7 linked regions of the Homo sapiens genome follow. The protein of the gene in region 5 purifies or fractionates together with the protein of the main gene of each other region. This does not show direct contact. Each region holds a gene or a part of one and is shown on either strand. Other genes may lie near its edges.

Region 1 (3,047 bases), on a different chromosome or scaffold from region 5:
TTGTTTTTTCTTGTTAAGTTCCTTGTAGATTCTAGATATAAGTCCCTTGTCAGATATATACATTGTATTTTCTCCCACTCTGCAGGTTGCCTTTTTACTCTTGCTGTGCAGAAGTGTTTTAGTTTAATTAGGTCCCATTTATTTATTTTTGTTGCATTTGCCTTTGGGTTCTTGGTCATGAATTCTTTAAGTCAATGTCTAGAGTAGTTTTTTTTGATGTTATCTTCTAGAATTTTTATGGTTTCAAGTGTTAGATTTAAGTTTGACCCATCTTGAGTTAATTTTTGTATAAGGTGAGAGATGAGGATTCAGGGACTAACAGGTATTTGACACTGTCCCCATCATTCTCAACATTTATTTTGACCTCACATGGTTTTCATTAGCAACACATGCCCATGAATAACATCTTGTTTCCCTGCAGTGGCTACCACCTGGGGATATAAAAGCATTCCTTATACTCAGGAAGTCATATCAGTTTCCTGGAGTGGCAATGGAAAGGAGATGGGGTAGAGGATGCAGAGACGGGCAGGACCATGTGAGATGGAACTGTGTAGTTTGACCCTACCCCCATCCTAGTTGGGAATCACTACTCTCTATAGGTGTGAGTGAACAAAAAAGATAAGAATGAATAAGCAAAATATTTGACTGAAAGACAGGTTGTCCCTGATGACGACTTATAACAATCATTTATGATGTATTTTTGTTATTGTGTTTCTTTAAAAGAAATGTTTGCCTCTGGGACACATTAATATCACCCGGAAACAGCCTCATTCATGGTGAGTTAAGGTCTATGATTTTTAAAAATATACCATGAAGGAATAATACACCATGAAGGAATGCTTTCTTGGTTTTAATTAGTGAATCCAGTGAGTGTTTATTGACAGGTTGAAAATGGAGAAATATTTAGAATGAATGACTAAAAATTTGGAAAGTTAATTAGCATATCTGGCTTCCTTGCTGAGTTAAAGATATATGGTCTCAGAAATCCAAAATAGTCTTTATATTCTATTCAGAAAATATGGTATGGATAGTGGTACTACTAACAAGGCTATTTAAGAAATTAGTTGCAAAGTATTCATTGAGCTTAATAGAAAATAACATATTTTAAAGAATTAAACCTCATCATAAAATACTTTTTGTCTTTTTTTCCTTTTTGTGGAGATCAAGGTCATGCTGTATTGCTCAGGCAGGTCTCAAGCTCCTAGGGTCAAGCTATCCTCCCACCTCTACCTCCCTAAGTACTGGGATTACAAGCATGAGCCACCACACCTGGCCCTAACCATAAAATAAAACAAAGGTTAACCTTATTATAATGACTAGAAATGTAAACAGTGCCATTTAAATATTATTCCTTTTAAGACAATACTTGCCAAATTAGTGTCCTAACTCTGTCTTCCACATAGTACCACCCAAAAAGTGCTCCATGCTCAAGTAAGTTTGGTTAAATGAAGTAGATTGTCAGAAAGACAGAAAGATTCTCAGTCTTTTAATACACTGATATGCATTTTGAAATATGTAGTTAATTCTCAATTTTATTGCAGAATTCTGCAAACAGTGGTTAACATTGCTTACAGATTTTCTGCATGTTAATTTGAATCTTTAATCATATTAAAATGCAAATACTCCTGGGAAGGATAATGAACTTCTTAACTTGTAACTGAAAACATTCACACATTTTCTCATAGTGTCGTTGTTTCAATTACTTACCTGAAAAGAACTTTTTGTACGGTACAGCACTTGGCTGGGTTAATACTCACCAACTTTGAGAAGGTTGGTCTCTGCTCTTCTGTATACTTTTTATGAGGCAGTATCACTTAGGGCTTAAGGTTTAAACTTTCTTTTTCTCTCTGTGTTCATTTCATATTGAGATTATGGATAAAAAGTTTGTTCTGACATTGCTTAACATTTTTCTTTAATCATGTGATTACAGAAATTCAATGACTTACAAAACAATAAATGTACCTTAGAATGAAAAATGCATCAGTAAGGTCTGTATTTAAATGTGGATGTAGACATCATAATTACCAAGACAAGAAATTGTTTTGAGAAATTCTCTGATGTTTTTCTTCTTCAGGTTTCACGTGCCACGATCATGGTGCCACGGTACTGCAGTATGCACCCAAACAGCAACTCCTAATCTCGGGGGGTAGGAAAGGACACGTCTGCATTTTTGACATCAGGCAAAGGCAGCTCATTCACACGTTCCAGGCCCATGACTCAGCTATTAAGGCTCTGGCCTTGGATCCCTATGAGGAATATTTTACCACAGGTTCAGCAGAAGGTAACATAAAGGTGAGTCAGTACAAGAGGTTGGAATGTGCTAAAGACTGATTGGAAAGAGAAAAAACAAAAACTCCACATTCTTTGAAATAAAGCTTCACTTTATTTCACTTGGGCTACTGCATGGAGATACTGCATATCTCAACACTCTGCCGCCTCCCCATGCTCCTGTATGGTTCTTTCTAAACTGTTATGGTCAATGAGATTATCAAACTCATTGGACTCAGGCCATTAGAAAGCTTTAAAGCATTCTATTTTGAGTAAAGTGTATGAGTTTAATGCATGAAATTTTTTGATGACATTAGTTTGGCTCCTTAGAAGCTTCTCCCCTCTCCCTCAGTACTCTTGTGTGTGGTGGAGGTGACGTTTCCAGTAAGTGAGCTAGTGCAGATGCTCCTTGACTTTATGGTGGGATTATGTCCCAACAAACCCATTATAAGTTAAAAATATTGTTAAAGTTGAAAAACATACTTTCAACTTAATATTTTCAACTTACTATGAGTTTATTGAGACTAACCTCAGGATAAGCCAAGGAGCGTGCTGAATGCGTATTGCTTTCACACTGTCATAAAGTCAAAAAGTCTTGTCAAACCATCGTAAGTAGGGGACTGTCTGTACCACACTACTTTTACATAGCCTTAGGACCTAGCTCAGCATGAGGAACACATTTAACTGAATTAACTCAAATAGTTAATTGAATTAGAGATGGGCTACATATGGTTAATATGAAGCCACAAGAGGATGTGAAGGAAAATATGGAAGGAGGA
Region 2 (4,307 bases), on a different chromosome or scaffold from region 5:
CAGCACTTTGGGAGGCCGAGGCAGGCGGATCACCTAAGGTCAGGAGTTTGAGACTAGCCTGACCAACATGGAGAAACCCCGTCTATACTAAAAATACAAAAAAATTAGCTGGGCATGGTGGCAGGCGCCTGTATTCCCAGCTACGTGGGAGGCTGAGGCAGGAGAATCACTTGAACCTGGGAGACAGAGGTTGCGGTGAGCCGAGATCGCGCCACTGCACTCCAGCCTGGGCACCAAGAGCGAAACTCCATCTCAAAACAAAAAAAAAAAGACTGAGAATATCGTTACTATATAGAGATGTTCATTGGGGAGAAAGTCAATAGAGTCTTGAATATTCTCGTGATGTGCAGAATAATTGTGTAGAGATTATTTTAAATCATAAATACATCTTATATCTTAATATCTTAAATATGTTTTGTTTTCCATATATACTTAAGATATTTCTATGAAAATGTCTTATCCTAATATTTGCCAGCAAGAGTCTTGTGTAACCTTTTGAAAGTTGAGTAATAACTGTAATGCTGCTTTGCTTATTTTTCATAAAACAGTGATTTTCTTTAATATATCTGAAAATGCATTTTTCATTTATTTTTTCTTATTATTATATGTATATATCAAGTGTGGCATTTGAGAGTCTGTTGATAAAATTTACAAAAGTAGAATTACAATTTTATGTTAATGATGAAAGAATGACTTATAATATTCACCTGATTGTATCTCTTATTTTGTGTGCTTTTGTTAAACATATGTCGATTTATTTTGCCAACATGATTATATAGACAGAGAACTCCTTTTCTTTCAGGTTGGTTCATGTGATCCTGGTTAATGGAACATAAGTGAGATTTTATGGGTGACAGGGAGAGAGATCAGGCTTGACTTGAGAGCACGTGGGAAAAGAAGGGGGCTATCTCTTCGCAAAGATTTAAGTATCTTATAAGAACTGTTTGCCAGTGCAATTATGAGTAAGTGTATTTGTGCCTAATTTTTATTTTTTAAAAGCTCAGGTGATTATAATTTCATCTGTGAAATGTTGGAAGTATAGTCTGATTAAAATAGTATATATCTAAAAAAAAAAAATAGCCATTCTGGCTGGTTGTGAGATGGTATTGCATTGTGGTTTTGATGTGCATTTCTCTAGTGATCAGTGATGTTACTTTTTCTTCTGTATGCCTGTTGGCTGCACGTATGTCTTCTTTTGAAAAGTGTCTGCTCACGTCCTTTGCCCACCTTTTAATGGGCTGGTGTTTTTTTTCTTGATAATTTGTTTAAGTTCCTTATAGAGCTGGATATAGACCTTTGTCAGATGCATAGTTTGCAAAAATTTTGTCTCATTCTATAAGTTGTCTGTTTGTTGATAGTTTCTTTTGCTGTGCAGAACCTGTTTAGTTTCTGCACAGTAAAAGTTAAATTTATTAGATCCCATTTGTCCATTTTTGCTTTTGTTGCAGTTGCTTTTGGCATCTTCATCATGAAATCTTTGCCCATTCCTATGTCCAGAATGGTATTGCCTAGGTTGTCTTCCAGGGTTTTTATAGAGGTTAAATGGTATTTATTAGCCATATAGCGATCATTGTTGAAAATGGGTGATGAGTATATAGGGGTTCGTAATGCTACTATCTGTGCTTTGAGTTTAAATTTTTAAAATAAACTATATATATTATATATATAGTTTTAAAGTTATATGTAGTTCAAAACTACATCTAAAATTGATTTCTAATTAAGGACTTGTGGCTTGCAAGGAGCAAGGCTTTCTAGAGTCACTTGCTGACCACTGCAGCCCCCTAACCAGTTTATCAGCATCGTATTGGCAACTTGGTTACCTAGTTTATCACTTTTGGGAGGTTACTAATCTTTACTTAAACAGCCCTGATGCCATAATACATAATATTGCCACCAGAGCCATTGTTATGATAAGACACATGTGGGAAGTACTTATTTAAAATTTACAGCTGATAACATTTTTATGTTGTAAATTCCTAATTTCCTAATCAATAAAACATTTATATTTTAAAACAGCATCAAGCATAGCACTTTAAATATACTATGTGTATCTTACATATAGTAAATTCATTTCCTAAATGAACTACCTTTTATAAATGAAACGTAACTTGCGGGTATTTCTTATTTTGAGAAAACATCACATTTTCTTTCTTTCTTTCTTTGAAACATTTTCCTCTCTTTTTTAGGAAGCTGTTTTAGGTTATGTGAAAGAGATGTTTCCTCATCTCTAAGGCTTACCAGAAGCTCTGATTTGAAGAGAATAAATGGATTTTGCACAAAACCACAGGAAAGTCCCGGAGCTCCATCCCGTAAGTTTTTATTTTTTCTATTTATGGAGTTGGTAGCTCCCAAAGAGTAGGAAAACTTGGAATCAAAAGAACCCAAAAGAGAAGAGGTTCCTATATCATACCCTCCCATGTAGAGAGAACACATTGTGTTCACATTGTGCATGTGCACATGACCAATATGAGCACAACATGGGAGGCCTGAGGGAGGCCCATGTTCCTACATCATACCTCCCATGTTTTACTCATATGCAGGCCCATCTTCCTACATCACACTTCTCATGTTTTACTCATACGTAGGCCCATGTTCCTACATCATACCTCCCATGTTTTACTCATATGCAGGCCCATCTTCCTACGTCACACTTCTCATGTTTTACTCATACGTAGGCCCATGTTCCTACAGCAGACCTCCCATGTTGTATTAATATTGGTCATGGGCACATGCACAGTGGTTTCTTCATTTTCAGCATTTGTCATTTTCATCTTCTTGCCTGTAGGGTTGGACTGGAGCTTTCTGTAGGAGAATGGATGCACCAAAGTAAATAGTAGTCCAGAAATTATGTTTTAAAGAACTCTAAAGATGAACCAAATTAAGATATTATGCGTTAGGTAAAATATAAGCAGGGCCTTCTCCTTATCACCCTCACTGGCTCTCCCTTTGCACTGATTTTTATCTCTATTCCCGACTTATTAATGAAATGACTCAGATGGCATATATTCCCTTCAGAGTCAGCAAATCTTTAAGTAGTATTCATGCTCTTTCCTTCCCCAACTGGGTCTTTTCCCGTCTTCTTTTAGTTACAATACTGCTGTTGTCTTAGTCATCCAAGTTTGAGGTTCTTCGTGACTCCTTCCTCTTTGTCTTAACCAGTCTCCACATTCTTTCAGTCATCCTCAGACTGACCTCATCTCTCTTTCCACTGCGACAACTCTGGTTCAGAGAATATCCGCTCACCATGGTATTACAGGCTCCCATTTGGACTTTTTGCCCACTCTACCGTGTCCCCCTTTTCTGTCTCCATCCATTGTACAGATAATAAGCCTTCCTAAAACATTAGTTTCTTCCTTGTTTCAAAATGTACAGTAGTTCCCAATCAAGTCTAAACCCCTTAGCCTGACATTCAAGATCTGGTAAAATCTGATTGTACCTTACAAACTTTTTCTTAGTCTGCTGAAGTCAGACAAGCTCCTCACCGTTTCCTTGGGATTTTATAATCTTATTTGGAAAATGAAGCATCCTAAGAAATTCCATTCAAATAAAGTTCTAATTAACTTGAGGTTTCTCAGTGTTTCTGTTTAGTGACTAGTTAAAAAGCACTAATACCATTTTTCTGTTGTTAAATTTGAGAGTTATAATCTCAAACACATAAAATTTCTTGTCTGGTTTTTCTCATAGGCACTTACAACAGAGTGCCTTTACACAAACCTACGGATTGGCAGAAAAAGATCCTCATATGGTCAGGTCGCTTCAAAAAGGAAGATGAAATCCCAGAGACTGTCTCGTGAGTGCTGAATTTAGTATTACAAGCAGCTTTCATTTCTCACTGATCTAAGGGAAAAGCAATGCCTCTGAGTTCCAACTGTTTAAAACTTTTCAACCAAATTTGAAAACATTTTTCACTTTTCCAAATGTTTTATCTTTGGTAAGTACTTGGAATATAAACAATGCTAGAAAACCTGTGTCTTATCATTGTTAAGTTACACAGTGACTGGTGAAGAACTGTCAGGTACTCTGAAGTCAATTGATTATTTGATTTCATCCCCTGGCTACAGAAGTGTGACTTTTTTAAAGTTTGTTTTTAATCTAGGTATATAAATTAAGTACCATTGACAATGACTGTATTCCCCCAAATCCACTTAAGTACTCAACCTTAGGTGTAAAAGTATTTAATTGCAATATTCTGGAATTCAGGAAAGAGTGCTTCCTGTCACCAACTTCCTTAAACCTAAGGGAAGGGATCTTGGCTGGGATCATGGAACTTTTTCAGAGTTTGTAGATGATGAGTGCAGGTTCCTCCA
Region 3 (4,307 bases), on a different chromosome or scaffold from region 5:
AGAATGTTCTTCATCATGGTGCGGGAGATGAGGGGCTTGTCGCGGCCGTACGGCTTCCGCAGCAGCAGCGACTCTGTGGGTGGCTCCGTCGCCAGGGCCAGAGAGGCAAATGTGTCCATGATCAAGTTCACCCACAACATCTGCACGGCTTTGAGAGGAGAGTCCTATGGAGAGGAGGCAGTCACCTTTCCATGGGCCGCCTGCCCGGGAAGGTTGGGGGTGGAAACCCAGTAGCTCCTGGGGGCTCCTCATGGGGTCCACATCACCAGGATTTCATGCCCATGAAAACAGACATCTCCATCCCTACATCGCCTTTACGCTAGTGGGGCGTTTTCTTTGGGCTGTCACGTGCCCGCCTCCCTTCTCTCACCTGGCAGCAGGTGTGCTCCAAATCCCTCGCAGGAGGTGAAAAACCCCAGACCACAAAACAGCCCGACGATGGGGTCTGCCATTTGGGGCAACAGAGTGAGGGCTGCTCTCCTTGTCTCCTGCACCTCAGGGGCAGGAGGAGGCAGAAACTCTGAACTGGACCTTCCTTCTCAGCTCCTCTGAGTTGTTCGTTAAAAATCAGCCTCACAGAAGCCAGACACACAAGGCCACGTACTGTCTGATTCCATTCATAGGAAACTTCCAGAACTGACAAATCCATAGAGAGAGAAAGCAGATGAGTGGGTGCCAGGGGCTGGGGTTTGGGGAGTAGAGAGTGACTGCTCACGGGGTCTGGGTGTCCTTTTGGGGTGATGAGAATGTTCTGGGAATAGACAGTGGAGGGATATAAACCTCGGAGTTATGTACTTTCAAAAGGTTAAAATGGTTCTGTTGAAGTTTGTTATGTGATTTTTTATCTCAATTTAAAAAATTGTTTTGAAAAGACCAAGTTGATCAGCAGGCAATTTAAACACCCCCTTTCTAAGGCGGGGTGAAGAAAATCTGGACACTCACCAATGGGGAAAATGGGACTGTTGAGAAAGGGTTCCCATGGGACGCATAGCCCACGCAGAAACTCATACACAGATGCTCCTGGCAGCACCATTCACAAGAGCCAAAAAGTGGGAACGAGCCATGTGTCCATCAGGGCAGACATACATAATGTGGCAGTCTGTGCCGTGGAGTGTTATGAGGCCATGAAAAGGCAGAAAGTCCTGCCCTATGCTACGGTGTGTGTGAGCCTGAAAACACGGTGCTAAGCGAGATGCCAGACACAAGAGGCCACATATTATTTGATCCCATAGGAATGAAATGTCCGGAACAGGCAAATCCATAGACCCAGGAAGCCTGTGAGTGGTTGCCGGGGGCTGGGATGTTTGGGGGAGAAATGGGGAAATGACTGCTCAAGAGCACAGGGTTTCTTTTTAAGATGATGACAATCTTCTGGAACTAGATAGAGCCAATGGTTGCACAACGTGGTGAATGTCCTACAAATTCGAGTGCTGAATTATGTACTTGAAAATGGTGAATTTTTGGCATATGAATTTGATCTCAATTAAAATAATCTGCAGCAAAGAAAACAAAACCCTCACTCTCACAATCTGGCCCTCAGGCCTGAGCCCAGGTGTCCTAGCTGGGGCATGGCAGCCCCCAGTACCCACCTGAGTAATGCAGGCACCTGTGAAGGCCACGATCACAGCCACCACATTGACCGTCAGTTGAAACTGCAGGAACTTGGAGATGCTGTCATAGACGTTACGGCCCCACATGACTGCCTTGACGATGCTGGTGAAGTTGTCATCGGTCAGGATGATGTCGGAGGCCTCCTTGGCCACGTCGGTCCCTGCGATGCCCTGGGGGGGTGACACACACACTCACACAGAGTGTTTGTGGGGGCCCCTTCCCCAGCCCCCCTTGATCACCTGGCCCGCCTGGGCTGGCTCCCTGCTCTCCCCTTCTGAATAACATCCCACCCCGCCCCCCAAAGCCAAGAACAGCACTGTTTTTTGTTGCTTTTTTTTAATGCAACACATTCTTGTACTACAAACAGTAAGTTGTCACATGTCACGGTGGGGGGGGGGGCTTTGCTCATAAACACAGAGGGTGCTGATGACATGGCATCAACACAGCTTTACACATAAAGCCCAGCTGCCACCACGTGGCCACCAAGCAGCGTGGTCTGTTCTTAGCACTCCAGAGAGGCTTGCTGGCTAAGGAGCCCTGGGAAGTCCTGCATGGGGACACCCTGGGCGGGGCGGCTCCTTGCAGAGGAGTCCCTGTCCCATGGAGGCGCAGCTGCAGCTGTGCCAAGCTGCGCAGTCCTCTCCTCTGCCCCAAGCCTGGCCCCGTGAGAGCTGCCACCTCTCGAAGCTTGGGCTGGAGCTCCCTTCTGGGCTACGGGTGCTGGGAAGGACTGGGCTGGGTTCCCTGGGTGACACTCCTTTTCGGTAGGGCAGGGAGAGGGGCTCACCAGGTTGCTGCGTTCAGTGGCTGTGGGGCCACTGAGGGGCCGCAACCAGCCATGTGGGTGGCGTCTGCAGGGCTACCCTGCTCAGTGGGTGAGCAACAGGAAGGAAGTGCAGAGGAAGAGCACATCTGGGGACTCTGCTCACCTCATCTGGGGCTGAGAGTCCATTTAGAGAGGACGGGGGTGGGCAATGCCATCAGTGATGAGCCCCCACCCCCCATTCCCCTTCCTCTCCACAGTATGTCTGGGGCCCACTGTCACCTTGGGCATCACAGCAGATGCCTTTAACCACATGTCCCCCGACTGGCAGAGCCCACGCAGGCCCAAGTGGCCAGGATGTGAAAGAAAGAACCTTCAGGCACTCTGTAACCTGCCCCGACACTGGCTCCCACTTCCTGGTACAAAGCTAATGTCCATGGGACAGATGCAGGCCCCATCTGCCGTGGTGAGCTGGGCGGGCACCAGGTGGCTTACCATGGCGAAGCCCACGTCCGCCTTCTTGAGGGCCGGCCCATCGTTGGTGCCATCCCCTGTCACAGCCACCACCTGCCGCTGCTCACCAGTGGTGCTGTCGATAATCCCTGGAAGACAGATCAGGGCAGGGCAGGGCTGGGGCCATCTGTCACCACAACCCTGTGTAGCCCTGCCCAGGGAGCTATGGGGGTAGGTTGGCTGTGAAAACCCTTTGGGATTACCCCGTCCTGACTGTCCCAATTATCTGTGCTCCCCGTCACCTGGATCATCTCCTATCCCCAAATAAGTAAGCAAATCTCACTGAGTGACAGGGCCAGGGTGGGAGGATAGGGATCTGGTTAGGGCCTGGGGACACAATCCTGGGTCCCTGGCTCTAGACCCACTGCTTCTAGAGACTCACTGTGTGACTTGGAGTGAGTCACTAGCCCTCCCCGAACCCTGGTTCCCTCATGGGCCCCTGCCCTGCTGCTCTGGGCTAATGGGACAAATGGACCCAGCTTCCTAGGCAGGCCCTGGGGACCTGTTTGGGAACCTGGCTTTTGGTGTCAGGAAGCAGACAACCTCGGGCTGGCCACCCCAGGAAAGGGGTGTGGGGGCTCGGCTACCTTTGACCAGTGTGTGCTTGTCGGTGGGAGACGACCGGGCCAGCACCCTCAGCTTGGGCCACACCTTGTCCAGCCGCTCCTGTTCTATCTGGGGAGGGGAAGCACAAGGACGCTGCAGAGCTAAGGCGGGCACGCAGGGGGCTGGGGTGAGGAGAAGGGGGGTCTGGGGTGGCAGACAGCCGGGTGCTACCTCGCCTTTCTCATTGCGGATCCGCCGGTTGAACTCCTTCCCTTCTAGGCACAGGAAGTCCTCCCCGGGCTGGATGATGCCGCATTTGGCTGCGATGGCCCGGGCCGTGTTGATGTTGTCCCCAGTCACCATGCGGACTGTGATGCCAGCACGCTGGCATTTTCGGATAGCTTCAGGGACCTAGAAGAGACAAGAGAGGTGGGCGGGGCCATCGAGGCAAGACGTATTTTGGGTTGAGGCAGTACCCCTTCCTCCATCAGATCTGCAGGTGGCCCAAGGTCCAGCAGAGGTGAGAGTAAAGCCATCCGATTCACGTGCTCAGAACACTTGTGTTAGCCTACAGTTGGGCAAAAGCATTGAACACAAAGCCTATTGTGGAATACAGTGCTGATTATCTCATGTAACTCATTGAATCCTGCACTGAAAGGGAAAAGCATGGGACTCGAAGTAAAGTTTCTGCTGAATGTGCATCACCTTTGCACCAAGTTACAAAATTGTTAAAAGTTGGGGACCACCTGCATCACATTAGATTCTGGAGAAAGAGAAAGAGGTTCCCCAGTGCTGAGTGGAAAGCGAACAGCCTGCAAGGGGTTGAGAGCGGGAAGCCAGGAGACTGGCCGGGAGGTGGTGGCATTGTCCCAGT
Region 4 (4,307 bases), on a different chromosome or scaffold from region 5:
GTAGATGGGTGCAAGGGTAGATGGATGGATGGGTAGGTAGGTGGATAGGTGGACGCATGGATGGATGGATGAATGGATGGATGGATGCATGGGTGGGTGGAGGAGTGGATGGGTGGGTGAGTAGAAGGATGGATGGGTGGATGGATGGACAGACAGATGAATGGATGGATGGACAGGTAGATGAGTGGATGGGTGGACGGATGGATGGATGGATGAATGGATGGATGGATGCATGGGTGGGTGGAGGAGTGGATGGGTGGGTGAGTAGAAGGATGGATGGGTGGATGGATGGACAGACAGATGAATGGATGGATGGACAGGTAGATGAGTGGATGGGTGGATGGATGGATGGATGGACGGATGGATGAGTGGATAAAAAGATGGATCAACAGATGGAAGGATGCATGGATGGGTAGATTGAACAGAAGGATGGATGGACGGGCAGATGGAAGGATGAACGAATGGCTGGATGGAAGGATGAATGGATGGTGGAAAGGTGGGCATATGGGTGAAGCATGGATGGGTGGATGGTTAGATGGTTGGATGGATGGAAAGTAGATGGATGGATGGCTCAACAGACCTCTGAAACCTCAGAGACTCTTGTCAGACCCTGTTGTTCCACTGGAAAAGATGCTTCCTGTTTTATAGGATGGGCTCCCTGGGCAGATTCAGGCCTGCAGCCTGCCACGTCCAGAGGCTCTGTGACTGCCCAGCCCCCACCTGCAGCCCTGAAGAAGGCGCATCCTTCCTGCCTGGCTGTTGTCTGTCTCTGCTGTCCTTCCCTTCCCGCAGCAGGAAGCACTGTCATCCTGGCCTCTGCTGCGCTCCCCCTGCCTTCCTGTTCCTGGCCCGGGAACTGGCTTCTTCCTTCCCTGAGGCCCCGCAAAGCCCTGGCTCCCAAGCCTGCAGCAGCGTGGTTGGGGCAGGCACCGGGTGGAGGTCAGAAAGGCCAGAATGCATACCTCCTCTTCTCTGTACTGTCAGCAGCCCCAGGACACCCTCCGTCCTCGGGCCACGGGGCCTTGGCGTCAGCCACAGGCGTGGCGGGCGTGGGAGCAGCACAGGAGGGTCCTGCACCTCCCCTGGGCAGTGCTGGCACCCCTCCATGAGGGCCAGGCAGGGTGGGGGAACGTCCCATGGGTTAGGCACTAGCAGCGAGCGAGGTGGGGGGCAGCCGGCCGGCTGCGACTGCCTCATTTGATCCTCACAGCAGCCTGGGAGGGAGGGCTCAACAGCCAGGTCAGCGAGTGAGGAAACTGAGGCGCCAGGCCTCACAGCAGCAGGTGGCCACGTGGGAGCCCAGTCTGGCTGAGTCCAGGTCGGTCCCTGCCCCAGGACCAGGCTCCCCTCCAAAGGCCGGGGGCAGAGGCTCAGGCCAGACCCCAGCCCGGCCTTCCTCCTAGCCCCTAGCATGAAGCCTCAGAGACCCCTGCAGGCAGGAAGGCCCACGTAGGAGGCACATGGCTGCCTGGGCCCTGTGCCCCAGTGGCCTCCACCACACCCCTCCTTGGGGCCTGGCCTCCATCTGGCTTCATGCCCTAGTTGGCTGAGGGCAAAGCCCTTTAAGCTAATGATGCCGTTTTTTTCAAAAGCTTCTTTCCTGAAAACGGAGGGAAAACCCAGCCCAGCCCAGTGAGAGCTGCTGGGAGAGCCAGCCTTGCTTTCCTCCCATGATGTGGGAGTCGGCCCCTCCCTCGGCTCCACACCTGCGTGTCCTGCGTCCCTTGTTCTGTACAGAACCCATATTTTCTCATCAAATCCTCTCTGGGCCCACCAGGATGGGACTGAGATGGGCTGGCTGTGCCATACCCTGGTGGGACAGGGTCCCGGCCCTCTCTACGGGGCAGTGTGGGTGAGCGCTGGCCTTAGCTGGTTTCTGGGAGCTGCTCTCCGAATGATGGCTGAGTCCACAGGGCATGGCTGGGTCCAGGTCCTGGTGCAGAGGTGAAGGGGCCGGCATGAGAGATTGAGGGTAGAACTAGCTGCATCCTCGCAGCCCTGCCCTCGCCTTGCCATCTCTCTCAACCATCACCCTGAGCACCAGCCTCCCAGGCCCCTGCTCTCCAGCAGGCTCCTCCCTGCCCGGTTGGGCTGTGTCCTCTGTCCTCCCTCGTCCTCTGTGCCCGGCAAACTGCTGCCCCCAGCTGAGCATGTCATCCCCACTCTGGCCTTGACCCACAGCACGTGGAGGGTCCGAGTCATCAAGCGGCTCCTGGGCCGGGGTGTCATCAGCCCATGGCTCTGTCCCCAGGCCCAACACAGCCGGCACAGGGATGGCACTGGGATTATCCATCAGCTTGGGGCCCCTCCACATTGGCAGAGAGCATGGCCCTGCGGTGGCCACCCTGGGCCTGGCCCTACTTCTCCCTCTCCCTGGGGTGCTTGGGAAGACGGGGACTGTGTGGCAGGCCTGCCAGCTGGACACACACTTTCTGGGCAGCTGAGCCCAGGAGGACAAAGGCAGCCAGAAGCCAGGCTGCAGACTGGAGGGAGCTGGCGGGGAGCAACGGAGCTGCTGGCTGAGCTGGGGTTGGGCAGAGGGGGTCACCTGCACCCTCTCTTCACTCCTGGGGCCAGGCCTCTGCAGGGACCTGGGGGGAGGCAGCAGGAGCGTCCTGTCTGGTGGCCCCTGCTAACCTGGCCAGCAGCCCCTGTGCCTTCAGAGCTTAAGGGGCTGTCGGTCCTCACTGCACATCCTGCAGGTCTGAGAGAGCTGAGCCCGCATGCCCGGCTGGGCACCCCGCACTGCCGCTCTTTGCTGTATGGTCTTGGGCAAATCACTTCCTCTCTCCAAGCCCCAGTCTTCCCACTTGTGAGATGTGGATTGGCCCTAGGATGACTGGGAACTACAGACCACAAACAACATGGTTAAGAATAAACTGTCGGCTGGGCACAGTGGCTCACGCCTGTAATCACAGCACTTTGGGAGGCCAAGGTGGGCGGATCAGGAGGTCAAGAGATTGAGACCATCCTGGCCAACATGGTGAAACCCCATCTCTACTAAAAATACAAAAATTAGCCCAGTGTGGTGGCGGGCGCCTGCAGTCCCAGCTACTCGAGAGGCTGAGGCAGGAGAATGGCGTGAACCTGAGAGGCAGAGCTTGCAGTGGGCCGAGATCGCGCCACTGCACTCCAGCTTGGGCGACAGAGTGAGACTCTGTGTGAAAAAAAAAAAAAAAAGAATAAGCTGTCTCTGGCTCATGCACACGGATCCCTCTGCTCTCACCTGCCTCCTGAATGCTTGGTTTGCTACAGCTGCTGTATCACTGTGACCCTGTGTTGTCGTCAGAGCATGGGGGCCTCGCTGGTGGGAGAGGATTCATGTGAGCTGAAAGGGGCATTGTAGACTGATTAGGAGCTTGCTGGCCCAGGAGGCGGGCACACAGGCCAGAGTGCCGGTGACTTTGGGCCCTCAAGTAGATGGAGCAGATGGAGCATGGTAAAGGTGATGAGGCCGTGGAAGCAGGCCCAGGTCCCCAGCCGGCCTCGGGCCCTGTCCTGCTCGCTGGATGTACTCTCTCTCTCGATGGTGGCACACCGGGGGGCTTCAACCCCACTCTGTGCTCTCACCCTCCCTGACAGCTCTCCTGGGCTCCAGTCCTGGAGGACCCCAGACCTCGAGCCCAGCCCACATCCAACACTGGGTAGGATGACTGGAAGCACGGAGCTCACAACTGTGCACCCGCCAGAGGAGCAAGTACCACAAAGAATGAGAATTCCCAGCGCTGGAGAGAATGTGGAGAAGGAGGCACCCACACAGTAATGATAAACAGCATCCATACACCGATGGCAAATTCTCCAAATTCTCCTTTCCCAAGACCTCCTGCTGCAACAGCAGCAAGCGTGCACCGAGCACTGTCCATGTGAAGCACAGCCCTACGCATGTGTGCATTCCACATGCCTTCACACCCCTGCGGTTGCCTCCGTATTGCCACTGTACAGATAGAAAGCTAGCACACAGAGGTTAACGCATTCCAAAACACATGACCGTTAAGATATTGTCTTGGGAAGACAGGATTAAGGGAAGCTACTATTCATTCTACAGATGTCTGTATAATTTGCATTTCTGCATTTTACAAAATGTAATCATCTCTTCCATCAGCGTGGGAAACCCTGCTCTCCCTCCCACTAGGTTGGCTGTCCAGGTGATGCTCACCCACCAGACATTCCTGACCCCGCTCATCCCCCACAGCCAATCGGTCACCAAGTGCCTCCATTCTGAGCTGAAATGGGCTTTGCAGACTGAGTAGGAGCGGGCCCAAGAGGAGGGCACTGTGGGTGGGGTGGCTGAGAGTGCCAGGCCCCTG
Region 5 (4,896 bases):
AGTGTAAACCACCAATGTCTTGTGTGTGTTGAAAAAATAATTACATATAAAAACTGGTTGCATCCAAAGAATAATGTACTTTTTGCACTGGCAAGACTCAAACCATATTATTGTTACTTCCTCCCAGTTACATATTTTGCAAGATATTGACAATTGTCTAAAGGAAGACCAAACAGATGTAGGTGGGAGCTACTGTCATTTGAACAACATTGAAAAGAAAAATACTAAAAAAGAAACATGAGGGCATATAAAGGAGCGCTGGGGCTGTGATGTTTATTTTGAATCTGTGAAGCATTGTCATGTGGAAGATTTATTCTGTGTAGCACCAAGATGCAAACTAGGAATTAGAGGTAAAAGTCTCAAAAAGACAAATCGTGGCTTGAGACCTTGGTTTAATGTAAGAAACAGTTTTCTCACCCTTAGAGCACTCCCATAAGGATGGAAGTAGTGAATTGTGGTGGTCACATTCAAGCTAGATGGGGACATGTCAGCAATGTTATCAGGAGGCTTCTACTCTGAAGCTGAAGTTCAGACAAGATTTCCAGGCTCTTCCCAAGTGCAAGATTGTAATTACTTAAATGCAATATTTTTACCATGTTTATTAAGAATAAAAGGATCATGAATTCACATTCTGACAAATGCTAGAATACTTATTATTAGAGACAAAACCAGTGCATGAGAGAATGGCAGGTGACATCAGCCCTGAATCAATGGGAAGAAAGACCCAATGGGATGTGGTATTTACCAGAGAGAGCACTTCTGCTTAGATTGCTACATCCTACAGTGAATGTTTAATATCATTGAGTATATTGGTGGTCTGTCATGCTTGACAACATTAACTATGATCATATTTATGACACTTGGCGTCCTTCAAGAATTTGTAGCTCTATTTCACATGACACTTAACTATCGCAAATACAAATTCCAGCTAAATAGACCCTTCAGTTTAAAAACAGTCTCATTCTCAAATTTTAAGGAGAAAGTGAAGACGGAGATGTCTTAAAGACTCGGCAAGTACTAAGTTGGCAAATGTCAAATGTTAAAATAAGTTTATATTAAATGTTAAAGTGTTTGCCTGGAATGACTTTTCCATTGTCCTGCTTGAGAAACACAGAGGCACCTCCTTATTGCTTTTATATTTGCTTTACAAAGACAAATGTATCAACATGCTCTGTATTAATTGTATGTTGACATTTTTGTCATATCCACAGACTGATGCATGTCTGTGCATGGTTTATAATAAGTGCACGTAAAAATAGAGAAAATAAGTAGAAAAAGAGAGAGATTTAACTCTCACCCCCCACCCCCCAAAAAAACAGATTAAATTAGTTTTCATTACTTTTTTTTTTTTCTTCAGCTTCAGCTCTCCCTCAGCGAGGGAGGAGGCTGTGGGCTGCGGACTGAGTGCTGGAATGAGGAGTAATTGAGCTTCAGCTGAGCCGGACGTAGCTTTCTCCTCCTGGTGTCATTGCTGCAGCCTCCAGTGCCGGGTCCCTAGTTCCTCAGCTGCCTATCTTCCCGGTGCAACATCGCCTGTAAAGACAGCAAAGCCACCGCAGAAGTTGCCCGGCAGAAGACTCCGGAGGCATTGGCTCAGTAACTTTTCACGTCATTTTCTGCTCGGGAGCCCCTTCTAGCCTCTCCGCGCAGCCTTTCCCACCGCAAATCACCAGTGCTCATGGGGCAGGCGGAGAGGAGCTTGCAGCATTGAGCGGAACCGGACTTGAGCCCGTGATGTCCGGCACCAAATTGGAGGACTCCCCCCCTTGTCGCAACTGGTCATCTGCTTCGGAGCTGAATGAAACTCAAGAGCCCTTTTTAAACCCCACCGACTATGACGACGAGGAATTCCTGCGGTACCTGTGGAGGGAATACCTGCACCCGAAAGAATATGAGTGGGTCCTGATCGCCGGGTACATCATCGTGTTCGTCGTGGCTCTCATTGGGAACGTCCTGGGTGAGTCTCCTCCCGGGCAGCCCTCCTAGGGGCTATCACCCCCTCTCCGCCCCGGGCTGAGAAGGCTCTAAAGAGACCCCTCCCTCCCCCGGGAAGCAAACAAAGAGGTCGCTGCTCTCGGATGGGGTTTTCTAATAAAATAATAATAATAATAGAAAGTTTTCTGATTTTCCGAACCGGGACCGAGCCCTGGAAAGGTTATTCCCTGTTTTGCAGGAATAACGGGGAAACCGCGTTTCTTTTTCGAGCACCTAGATTACAAGCGCAGGGAGAGGGGCCGCGGCAGGGATCTCCAGGTGGATTTTGTTGAGTGTGTGTGTGTGTGGGTGGGTAGGTGGGGGAGTCAGTCATCCCTTTGTGTAACGTGGCTGGGTGTTTCAGGGGGGTTGGGACGAGACAGAGCTTGCAGAATACAAAGCTACATCCCTAAGGAGCAAGCTCTCTGTGGCTGTGGAAGTCACAAAGCATTTGTGAGCTAGGTGGCATTGCCCTTTGGCGAGGAGGTTTAGTCTCCAGTCAAGAGGTGGTAATGAACCAGCAGGGAGTGGAGACGGAGGCAAAGCAGGGAAGTGCACTCACTCATAGAAGCTGAATTAAACAGGATCCATGCCTGGAGCAAGAAGGAGGGGCATCGGAGAAAAGTACCACAGAGATCTCAATCATCCATCCATCCATTCATTCTTACATCCATTCAGCCAAATATTTTTTTTTTTCAGTCTGCTTGTTGCCAGGCTCAGGAATTATTCATGTCAACTGTTTGTTGTTGTTTTGTTTTGTTTTGTTTTCTCCAAAGATGAGACTAAGCTTAATGCTAGGCTATTTGTCCCGGTCTAGGTCTGTATGCAAACACGGGTTTCCTCGACCCCTCATCCCCCTCCCCCTAAACAATTTCTGAGGGTTGGGGAGGGGGTGAGATGGCAACATGGTGAGTGCGATGATGGAATGTATTAGGGCAGTTGGGGAATATACCTCCAGAAAAGGGGCTTTGGAAGGGAGGGATAACTTGAAATAAATTGTGAATGGAAGGAGAGTGTACCTTGATGAATGAAGAGTAGAAGGCTGGGAGACTTTTCACATGCAGAGGGCAGTGTGGAGGAAGTCTCTGCTGAAAATGACAGGAGATGGAGGAGGCTAGGAGTTGCTCTTGATTTTCATTTATAAAAGAAGAAGAAGGTGAGTGAGGTGAGATAGGCTGGGAGGCTTTGCAGTCAAAAGCAAAGAACTTGTAGCTGCAATGGGGACTGACAAGGAAATTATCAGGCTTTCAGACTAACCTGATTTTTGCCTTCTCTCCCAAGTGTGTTGGTCTGGGTAGAAATCATCCCGAGTAGTCTCTCACCAACTCAGCAGGCAGAATAGATGATAGTATGTGAATGACAGGAGTTCTCCAGAGTGTTGGTAGAATGTTATTTGAGGAGACAAGAAACCTCTGAGAACTTTAGTACATTTTTAAATATTATTTTTAGACTGTTTTCCTTTGGTTGATTTAAAAGTAAAAATAAAGGAAATCTTTTTGGGATACTAACAAAATGAAACAAAAGTGGAAATACACAAGATTAGGATTCTTGTTATAAGCATAATTCTGTTGATAATAATCCTAATCTTGCTTTCCTTCTTCTTGTTACCCATCCTTAGGATTACATCTCTTAAGACACATGGCTACCAGCATAGCAACATTTTACTGCATTATGCCAACACTTATTGATAAGTGAATAATCAAAATTGAACATATATTGAGTACCTACTGTGTGCCAGAGCCCTTCATGTACATTCTCTCCCTTAAATATCAAAATAACCCACATTAGCCAGAAGAAGAAACAAGACTTAGAGAAATAAAATGACGTATTAAGGGACATAATTTAAATTCAGTTCCATTTTTTCTGACCTCAGATCCAGAATTCTCCATTGTTATTCCACTCTAGAGCTAAAAAGCATATAGAGAATAGATTCTCTGCTCCTGATTGTCTGCAAGTTTATTAGATGTGTTCCTGTTCTCCTCTGCATCAACGCCCACTGCCAATAAAGTACAATGAGGGATTAATGGCACTGTCATTCTCTTCACCAAAAACCTTTCCAGAGAAGCAGTAATTTTTTTATGAATAGCTATCAATAGTAACTATTTGCCTTCCTTATTTTAATTTTCGGCTGAATCTTTGTGGTAAAATGTGCTCTTCTTTGTTGTTATTGCATTTTTACCTTGCATAGACCTTGTAGTGAATAGTCTCCATATCCTAATTGCATAGTTTAGGGATACATGTTTGCTAGCCTGGGGAGTTTTAGTTTCAAGAAGGAAACACCTCTACAGTAAGGCTACTTGTTTCATAATGTCAAGGAAGATAGCACTGTCCACAGCCCCAAGTGCTGAAATGGCCAATTCCATTCAGCCTAAAAAGAAAGATTTACTCAAAGCACTCTGCCTTAAAGAAACTGACAGCTATTTTCCTCAGGACTGAATAACACTGAAATCCTCTCTGGTTGAACTGAAATGCATTCTTTTCTGACATACTGCCTGAAAGTTGATGAGGTTTAGGTTTGACATTTAAACAAACGAGTAGTGTCGTTACTCACAGACAACTTCCTGCTCTTTGATGTCACTGTCAAATTTGCAAAATGAATTAGATTGAGAATTGCTTCTTTGCCCCTCTGGTATAAGTAATTTTGCACATAGAGTGGTAGGACAGGATGTCACATGATTTATGCAAAATAAAGATGCAATATTAAGTATGAAGGTAAAATACCACAGTGTAGGCAGCAGATGTAATCACTGAGCCTTCAGGTCCAGTCACCATTTGTACTTTCATATAACTGCTTGGAAAATCTCAACCTTTTTGGGCTTACAAATATAATGCCATCAGTTAGAAGTCATCTTCTCCACAATGTCCTTTCATGAAGTGATGTAATAGGATATGCTGTGGGTAGCATAACAAAGTCTTGATTGT
Region 6 (3,582 bases), on a different chromosome or scaffold from region 5:
TTTTGTATTTTTATTCAAGACGGGATTTCTCCATGTTGGTCAGGCTGGTCTCGAACTCCTGACCTCAGGTGATCCACCTGCCTCAGCCTCCCAAAGTGCTGGGATTACAGCCATGAGCCACCACGCCTGGCCTATTTATTTTTGAAACAGTTTTGCTCTGTTGCCCAGGCTAGAGTGCAGTGGTGTGATCTTGGCTCACTGCAACCGACGACTCCCAGGCTCAACGGATTCTCCCACCTCAGTCTCCTGAGTAACTGGGACTACAGGTGTGCACCACCACACTCGGCTGATTTTTGTATTTTCGGTAGAGACAGGGTTCACCATGTTGCCCAGGCCAGTCTTGAACTCTTTAGGTCAAGTGACCTACCTGCCTCGGCCACCCTCCCAAAGTGCTGGGATTAAAGGTGTGACTCACTGCGCCCAGCCATGATAGACTTTCTTACCTCTCGTTCTGGTCACCTCTTACTCCAGATACATTTATGTAATCTGCTTGCTCTCTTGAATTTGTTATGGAACTAAATATGTGAGTGCAGAACTTGCAATGAATGGATGAACCATAGACTAATATGAATCAAAGGCTGCTATTAAATTCTTAGGTTAAAAAAATAACTTCTTGGCCAGGTCTGGTGGCTCAGGCCTGTAATCCCAGCACTTTTCTAGGAGCCTGGGGCAGGAGGATTGCTACAGTGAGCCATGATCATGTCATTGCACTCCAGCCTGGGCAACAGGGTAAGATCTCATTTCAAAAAAAAAGCCACCCCCTAAAACAAACCTCGTTTGGAAATTCCGAATGTGCCTCAGAATTTATCATCCACTATGTTCTTCCTTAGCCACTGTAAGCTACCTCAGAGTACCCAGCCAGGAAGTTTGAAGGTGGCTTTTGATTTCTAATTAGGATATTCAGACTCCAGCATCTCAACAGAAAATATGCAGAGACATTTTATCAACTTGTGACATACCAGGGGTACATGAATATTCAGGGCTCCACACTACTATATAATGCTGCATTTCTTGGTTTTATTTGAAACAGTGCATATTTTTAGCATTTTATGGTAGGATTTTACACTTGTCATTTACACAAATTACAAGGTTCTGCTTCAAGTTTTTAAAAAAAATTTAAAAATTCAGCCCATGTGCAGCACAAGAATATGCAAAACTACTTTACATTATACACACTTTTTATCAAAGGAGATACAAAATTCTGGCTTGTTGTTTTAGACAAATACAAGAAGCTTCAAACTAGACACAAAGGGTTAACATTAATTCTCAAATATAAGTCTGCACTTTTGTGTTGTAGTTCTCTGAGATGTGAATACCAAATTCCTAAGGGATTTTAATGTTTTCCTTTGAAAAGGAAAACTAAAAAAATTCCCGTAAACAAGTCCCTCCCCATCAGCTTGGTCTTTCCACAACCCTACTCTTGCTTCCCTTAGTGCCAGACACTTGCATCATGTTACAAAATTGGGGTGGGCCACTTACATCATACAAGGAGCAAATCCTTTTAACTTCTCTCCTGCAAAAATCTAAACAGGAATATATTGATGCAGATGGTTCTGCTACATTTTATTTAATATGATGTAACACTTGGTAATCTAGTAAACTGTGATGCCGGGCAATTAATCAAAGGGAGGAAGAGACAAAGGTCCCTATCAATGCACTTTTTGTTGGTGACACACTGGAAACCTTAGGAATCAAGTTGTCTGATGCTAAGAGAACTTTAAACTCTCTCTAAATAGAACACACCTACTGATTGCTTGAGGGACTTCTCTGATACTTATGCATAGATACTCTTTTTCAGCATGTTGGAGGCAATATTTTATACTTTCTAAAGGGTTCTGAAGAGGCAATAAGGAAGAGTGGGGATTTTTCTGCCCCTGTAAAGGTATCATTTTCTATCATTGGTATCCATTGTTCCCTAAGCATCTTCTGATACCTAAATGTGTGTAAATGCATATTTAAAATAATTACCCATCTTTCAGTCAATACACAGCCAACTCTTGATTATCTATGAGAAACGTAAGTGACATTTACTCTCAAACTTCACTCTAACAGAATCATCCACCTTTGATACACTTGTTTGTTTTACATCCCATGTACACTACAGCCTATCAAGACGAAGTTATAACACAAATGTTGTTTCCTCTGACCCATGCTAGAAACGTGTAAGGAAATGGAGTGAGCACATTCTGCTAGGGCTTTGCGGATGACCCTACAGTGGACAGTGGGGGCAGGATAGAACTCTGGACATGAGAAAAGACAAATTTCATGTTCCTCCAGAATCAGGTCTTACATGCCTTCGTTATTTTGTTATCACAAAATTAAAAACCTGAGGCTTAGTCACTATTTTATATAGATAATGGAGAGTTGACTGTAATCATGTTATGACTTTAGCTCTTTAACATGAAAAAATTCACAAGAAAGCATATGATAAAAAGATTAAAAAGACTGCCATGACATCTAGAAGCATTTATTTTATGCAAAAAACTTAAATATGATTATGTGTACACATAAAGTGCACACATTACCTATGCTGAACAATGCCAAGAAACATAATATATTGATGCAACAGTTTTCTAAAATAAACATAAAAATGAGCCCAGACCATCAGACAAAAGCAAAACACTTATTTCCAAATAGCACAATGCTGAAAATTGATAGCAATCCTAAAACACCTCCAACTTTCCTTAAAAGCTGCCAAAGTCCAACTATTTTTTAAAAATTGATTTTTTTTACATTAATAAAAATCTGGTGACAAACATTATAAAACCAAATGCTGGACAGTCTTTACTCCTTTAAAATTCCAAATATTCCAACATAATCACAGGAGTAAAAACCATTTTAAAGTGATATGCTTTATGAAACAAACAACAATATGTACATTTATTGCAAATTATATTAAACTAAAATGAGGGGAAATCAAAATATGAACTGTTTACTACTTGCAAATCAATAATTTTAATTTTCTCACTCTGATAAAAATCAGAAAGCAACATTTATAAAATTGCTACCACATCACTTTTCATAGCAGGGAACCGAAATCTGTACATCTCATTTTTGCAGAAAAGTAGGCAGGCAGAAAGAATTATACATAAAAGTTTCCAAAAGGAAAAACAAAGAAATATTTAATCTGATCTCTTTTCTTTTAAAAAATTAATTCAGTAGACTTCTATTTTTTCCTGTGTAACATGGGAATTCCTGGCTCTAAAATGGATGAATTTTCAGTGTCAGTGTAAAGACATCTTGTTACTTTCTTTAAAATAAAAACTGCAGCGTGGAAATTAATGGTGTATTACGCATTTAAACTCCAGATAGGCAGGAACTGGAACCAAGTGTTAAGCAATTTGCTTAATTATTGACTTTTCGTAAGAAAAGTCTAGGGGAAGGGGGAGAACAGAGTTGCTTTTAGCCTCTCTCTCAAGAGTTTCTGCTGTACATTTCCATCAGAGGACTTGTGGTCATGTGAAAAGGAAGTAATAGTCTCTTTAGTTTTCAAGGCAGAGAGTGTGTGTTCTGAAGTGAGCTTCATTTTCTGTTCAGGGACATTTGTGAATCCAAGTTTTTGCAGAAGCTGGAGCCTGCTTC
Region 7 (4,307 bases), on a different chromosome or scaffold from region 5:
CATTTGCCCTCATCCAGGAGTTTCAGGAGTACCAGACTCAGTCAGGGCCTCTGGGGACAGGAGGAAGGGCTGAGCGTACTCAGGCCAGCCACACCCTCAGATCCACGGAACTGCTGTGGCCCACTTAGGTCTGGGTAGAGGAGGGGCTGTTTTCAACCCAGGTTGAAACAGGTTCCTGCAAACTGGCCTGCCCTCCACCTACTCAACCTTTGGAGGCTCCAGGGGTCTCCTGGCTAGACTTCTATCCCCAGGAAAGTTACCACCCAGGGGTCTCCAGAGAACTCATTACTTCCTCTTCACAAGCACAGAGACCCTTTCCTCCTTTCCTGCCCCTTCCTTCCAGGACGCTGACCTTTATGGCGTCGTACACCAGAGCCTGCAGCAACAGCGTCTGCCCAGTTCCAGCAGGGGGCAGCAGGGCCCGGGTCAGAGCCGGCCGGGGGCCTGCCTGGGGCAGCTCACAGCCTGCCCAGGAACCAGCCCAGCTCAGCCCGCTTGGTTGAGCCCAGGAGATCTGCACGGGGGAAAGAAGGGGACAGTAAGGGGCACGACCAGGATTGGCTGGGAGAGGGAAGCCCGGGGGAGGGAATTGGGATGGGCCGCGGGGGAGCAGGGTCCAGACTGTCACCCGCTGCTCTCTCCCTCTCCAAGGCTCTGGGGAGGAGCATCGAAAGGGCTCAGAGTCAGCGGGGTAATCTGAGGATGAGTCCTCCTGCAGAGGAGCGGAACACCAGACGCTCTGCAAAGCCCGCGGTGTCCGAGCCAGGCGGGGAGAGGGTGAGGGAGGACGGGTCGGAGTTGGGTGGGATGTGCCGCCCCTGCCAGCATGAAAGGGACCAGCCCAGCGAAGGCCTCACCTTATCCTGGTCCCAGTCCCACTTGGCCACAGCCAAGCCGACTGGCCTCTTCTCCCCACACGGGGATGTCTGGGTCTCAGAGGTCTCCCCAGCTCCAGGGATGAGGAGGGAGCTGGGTGTTCTGGCTACCCTGGGTCACCTGCTGGGAGGCCCTTTCCTTCGTGAGAACCAAGCTGACCTATTCCGCCGGGATATGGAGGCCCATGTGCTTCCCTGACAGCCAACCATTCCGTGGAGGAGGGAGAGAGGCCCTAGCGTCCGCAGCCGGCTCCGAAGAGGAGGTAGAGCCATGCTCGCATAGCCACGCGTTGTGCTCTGTCGCCCCCTGGTGTCCTATTTAGAAAAGAGCCGCAATGTGGGGCTCTGACTTACCTTTCTTTTGGAGTGACTCCGGCCTTCAGAAACACCGCCACCCATAAGGCTGTGCACTTCAGCCCTGTCCTCCACGTCTGAGGGTGGCGGGGACCAGTCCTGGGGATGGGGGTGCACAAGGGACTCCAATTCATGGGCAGCTGGGGGGCTGGGGGGGCCAAGCCGAGCTCTGGAGTACAGCGCGGGATTCCCGGGGGTGGCGGTGGAGGACAGGCCTGGGAGGGATTCCCTGGAAGGGAAGACGGAAAACAAGGCATAGCGGTCAGAGTAAGGGGTCAGGCGGGGCTGGGATCTGGTCCAGCCTATGTCTCTGGGGAGGTTCCTGCCCATCTCTGGGATTTGCTTTCCTGGTCTGTGCAATGAGTAAGAAAAACTGCTATTGTTCAAAACAGCCTGATGCTGTAAACAGGGCTCTTCTTCCCTTGGCTGCAGGCATCTGGAGATTTGGGGCCCCTCTTTCCAAGATGCTGGCAGCTACAGAGGAAGTGGGAGTGAGGCAGTTCTGTTGGCCTTGCTGAGGAGGGTAGGCTGGGGCTCCCCTAAGTCCACTCCCCATTCTCAGGAGGACATCATCCCTGATTCCTTCATCCCAGAGTCCTGACTTTAACGGGGCTCCTGGGAGTGCCAAGGGCAAGTCATGGCCACTTTCCCTGATGGCCCATTCTGCAGCCCTTCCTGGAAGTCTCCCTTCCCTGAAGTCAGACTGGCTCCCCTGCTCACCTGTGGGGGCTGCGGCGCAGGCCAGCACACATGCAGGCCAGGAGGCAGAGGAGGCCCAGGCAGACACCCACGATGATGCCCGTGACTGAGTGCATGTCCAGCGAGTCTGGTGGGGGAGAGAGAGGCACAGAGCAGGTCAGGACAGAGGAAGGGCACAGGGCATAGATCAGGACTATCCATGGCTTTCTCAGGAGACACCAGCTGGACCCTCACCCTTCAGATGCTCACAATCTTCTGATACAAGGACAGGAGGGCCCTGAGCCTCACAGAAACTACTACTACCTCTCCCTCTGACTGTCCTCCCTAAAACACACCCAGAAGTTATGGTCTCTCTGCCTCAAACTGGCCTTTGGTGAAGCACGTGTTGCCTGCTCCCAGGGCTGTTGCATGGGTGTGCAACATGTGCAGGTGCGCAGACCCCATGCTTGGATGGACCCCACGCTTGAGTTCATGCTCTGCTGTCACCACCTTAAAATTCTAATTTTTTTTCTTTTGAGACAGGGTCTTGCTCTGTCACCCAGGCCGGAGTGCAGTGGCATGAACACGGCTCGCTGTAGCATCAACCTCCTGGGCTCAAGTGATCCTCCCACCTCAGCCTCCCAAGCAGCTGTGACCACAGGCATGAGCTACCACACCCAGATAATTTTTAAATTTTTTGTGGAGACAGGGTCTCACCATGTTGTCCAGGCTGGTCTCCAACTCCTGGCCTCAAGTGATCCTCTCACCTCAGCCTTCCAAAGTGCATAAGCACTTTGGATTACAAGCACAAGCCACCATGCCCGACCTCTAGCTTTTTTTGTTTTTGTTTTTGTTTTTGAGACGGAGTCTCGCTCTGTTGCCCAGGCTGGAGTGCAGTGGCATGATCTCGGCTCACTGCAAGCTCCTCCTCCCGGGTTCACGCCATTCTCCTGCCTCAGCCTCCTGAGTAGTTGGGACTACAGGCATCCACCACCACGCCCAGCTAATTTTTTTTTGTATTTTTAGTAGAGACAGAGTTTCACCGTGTTAGCCAGGATGGTCTCGATCTCCTGACATCATGATCCGCCCGCACCTTGGCCTCCCAAAGTGCTGGGATTACAGGCATAAGCCACCGCGCCTGGCCGTCCGACCTCTAATTTTTAAAATAAGGGATAGCACCTTTTCATTCTGCACTGGGCCCTGGAAATTACGTAGCCAGTCCTGCTGTCCACCTCCACACCATAAAGCTCATCACCTCACCAAGTTAATCCTCCAATCAAAGCAATTTCCCAAAGAAACTGGTCTCTAAAGCCAGTCCCAGCTGGATGCAGTGGCTCACACCTGTAATCCCAGCACTTTGGGAGGACGAGGTGGGTGGATCACCTGAGGTAAGGAGTTTGAGACCAGCCTGGCCAATGTGGTGAAAACCCGTCTTTACTAAAAAATACAATAATTGGCTGGGCATGGTGGCTCACGCCTGTAATCCCAGCACTTTAGGGGGCCAAGGTAGGCAGATCACGAGGTCAGGAGTTTGAGACCAGCCTGGCCAACATGGTGAAATCCTGTCTCTACTAAAAATACAAAAATTAGCCGGGCATGGTGGTGTGTGCCTGTAATCCCAGCTATTTGGGAGGCTGAGGCAGCAGAATCGCTTGAACCTGGGAGGCGGAGGTTGCAGTGAGCCGAGATTGCGCCATTGCACTCTAGCCTGGGCAACAAGAGTGAAACTCCATCTCAGAAAAAAAAAAAAAAAGCCAGTCCCCCACGAACCTGGCCTCTGAATCAAGTTATCACTGAACCACACCTATTTCCCCTTCACATTTGCTCTGCCCCCACCAAACCTGGAGGACAGCTGTGCAAAACAATGAAATTGTAGTTGTGTCCACAGGCAGGGGCTTGGAAGTCAATCCAGGGAAACCTGGGCTGCCCTGTGCTCATACCTGACAGCTTCTCCTGGAGCGTGATCACATCCTGCAGGCGGGAGAAAGGCCCAGGTCCCACCTCTGTGCGCGCCCCCATCTTGAAGAAGTACCGAGTGTCGCTCTCCAGGCCATGGACCTCAGCACTGAAGATGTTTCCTGGGGGTGAGGGAGGCAGGGAGAGCAGGGATGGTGGATGGGGTGGGTGGATGCAGAGGTGGGCAGGGAGGGGACTGGGAGAGTCTGCTCTCCACTTAGGCAGCAGCTTCTGCTTGCTTCTCCCAGTAGCCCCTGGAACAAACCCCAGCACTGTTCTCACTGCTGGAAGCGGGAGAGGCTGGGAAGCTCTTGAGCAGATGCCCTGGGGCAGGAGCCCTCACCCTGCGTGGTGAGCAAGGTCCACTGGTGCTCAGGCTGCGTGTGGTTGCTGCTGTACAGGATCAGATACTCCACGATCTCCCCGTTGGGCTCTGTGGGGGGG

Evidence for each region.
Region 1: the proteins of HCRTR2 (region 5) and DMXL2 purify together in Homo sapiens (affinity purification with mass spectrometry; one large-scale study listed by BioGRID and IntAct). This does not show direct contact.
Region 2: the proteins of HCRTR2 (region 5) and FAM162A purify together in Homo sapiens (affinity purification with mass spectrometry; one large-scale study listed by BioGRID and IntAct). This does not show direct contact.
Region 3: the proteins of HCRTR2 (region 5) and ATP2B3 purify together in Homo sapiens (affinity purification with mass spectrometry; one large-scale study listed by BioGRID and IntAct). This does not show direct contact.
Region 4: the proteins of HCRTR2 (region 5) and FLT4 purify together in Homo sapiens (affinity purification with mass spectrometry; one large-scale study listed by BioGRID and IntAct). This does not show direct contact.
Region 6: the proteins of HCRTR2 (region 5) and PDS5A purify together in Homo sapiens (affinity purification with mass spectrometry; one large-scale study listed by BioGRID and IntAct). This does not show direct contact.
Region 7: the proteins of HCRTR2 (region 5) and IGDCC4 purify together in Homo sapiens (affinity purification with mass spectrometry; one large-scale study listed by BioGRID and IntAct). This does not show direct contact.

Annotation. Positions count from the first base shown.
Region 1 is NC_000015.10:51,449,374-51,452,420, reverse strand, and holds part of DMXL2 (dmX-like protein 2), read left to right. Parts: intron 1-723; coding exon 724-776; intron 777-2,074; coding exon 2,075-2,292; intron 2,293-3,047. UniProt on the Homo sapiens protein: May serve as a scaffold protein for MADD and RAB3GA on synaptic vesicles. Plays a role in the brain as a key controller of neuronal and endocrine homeostatic processes.
Region 2 is NC_000003.12:122,400,574-122,404,880, forward strand, and holds part of FAM162A (protein FAM162A), read left to right. Parts: intron 1-2,186; coding exon 2,187-2,309; intron 2,310-3,684; coding exon 3,685-3,790; intron 3,791-4,307. UniProt on the Homo sapiens protein: Proposed to be involved in regulation of apoptosis; the exact mechanism may differ between cell types/tissues.
Region 3 is NC_000023.11:153,555,586-153,559,892, reverse strand, and holds part of ATP2B3 (plasma membrane calcium-transporting ATPase 3), read right to left. Parts: intron 3,845-4,307; coding exon 3,665-3,844; intron 3,563-3,664; coding exon 3,475-3,562; intron 2,977-3,474; coding exon 2,870-2,976; intron 1,782-2,869; coding exon 1,590-1,781; intron 165-1,589; coding exon 1-164. UniProt on the Homo sapiens protein: ATP-driven Ca(2+) ion pump involved in the maintenance of basal intracellular Ca(2+) levels at the presynaptic terminals. Uses ATP as an energy source to transport cytosolic Ca(2+) ions across the plasma membrane to the extracellular compartment.
Region 4 is NC_000005.10:180,639,043-180,643,349, forward strand, and holds part of FLT4 (vascular endothelial growth factor receptor 3 isoform 1 precursor), read right to left. Parts: intron 1-4,307. UniProt on the Homo sapiens protein: Tyrosine-protein kinase that acts as a cell-surface receptor for VEGFC and VEGFD, and plays an essential role in adult lymphangiogenesis and in the development of the vascular network and the cardiovascular system during embryonic development.
Region 5 is NC_000006.12:55,172,854-55,177,749, forward strand, and holds the start of HCRTR2 (orexin receptor type 2), read left to right. Parts: upstream 1-1,661; 5' UTR 1,662-1,734; coding exon 1,735-1,957; intron 1,958-4,896. UniProt on the Homo sapiens protein: Nonselective, high-affinity receptor for both orexin-A and orexin-B neuropeptides. Triggers an increase in cytoplasmic Ca(2+) levels in response to orexin-A binding.
Region 6 is NC_000004.12:39,821,866-39,825,447, forward strand, and holds the end of PDS5A (sister chromatid cohesion protein PDS5 homolog A), read right to left. Parts: 3' UTR 998-3,582; downstream 1-997. UniProt on the Homo sapiens protein: Probable regulator of sister chromatid cohesion in mitosis which may stabilize cohesin complex association with chromatin. May couple sister chromatid cohesion during mitosis to DNA replication.
Region 7 is NC_000015.10:65,384,602-65,388,908, forward strand, and holds part of IGDCC4 (immunoglobulin superfamily DCC subclass member 4 precursor), read right to left. Parts: coding exon 4,207-4,307; intron 3,986-4,206; coding exon 3,848-3,985; intron 2,056-3,847; coding exon 1,950-2,055; intron 1,459-1,949; coding exon 1,230-1,458; intron 515-1,229; coding exon 353-514; intron 1-352.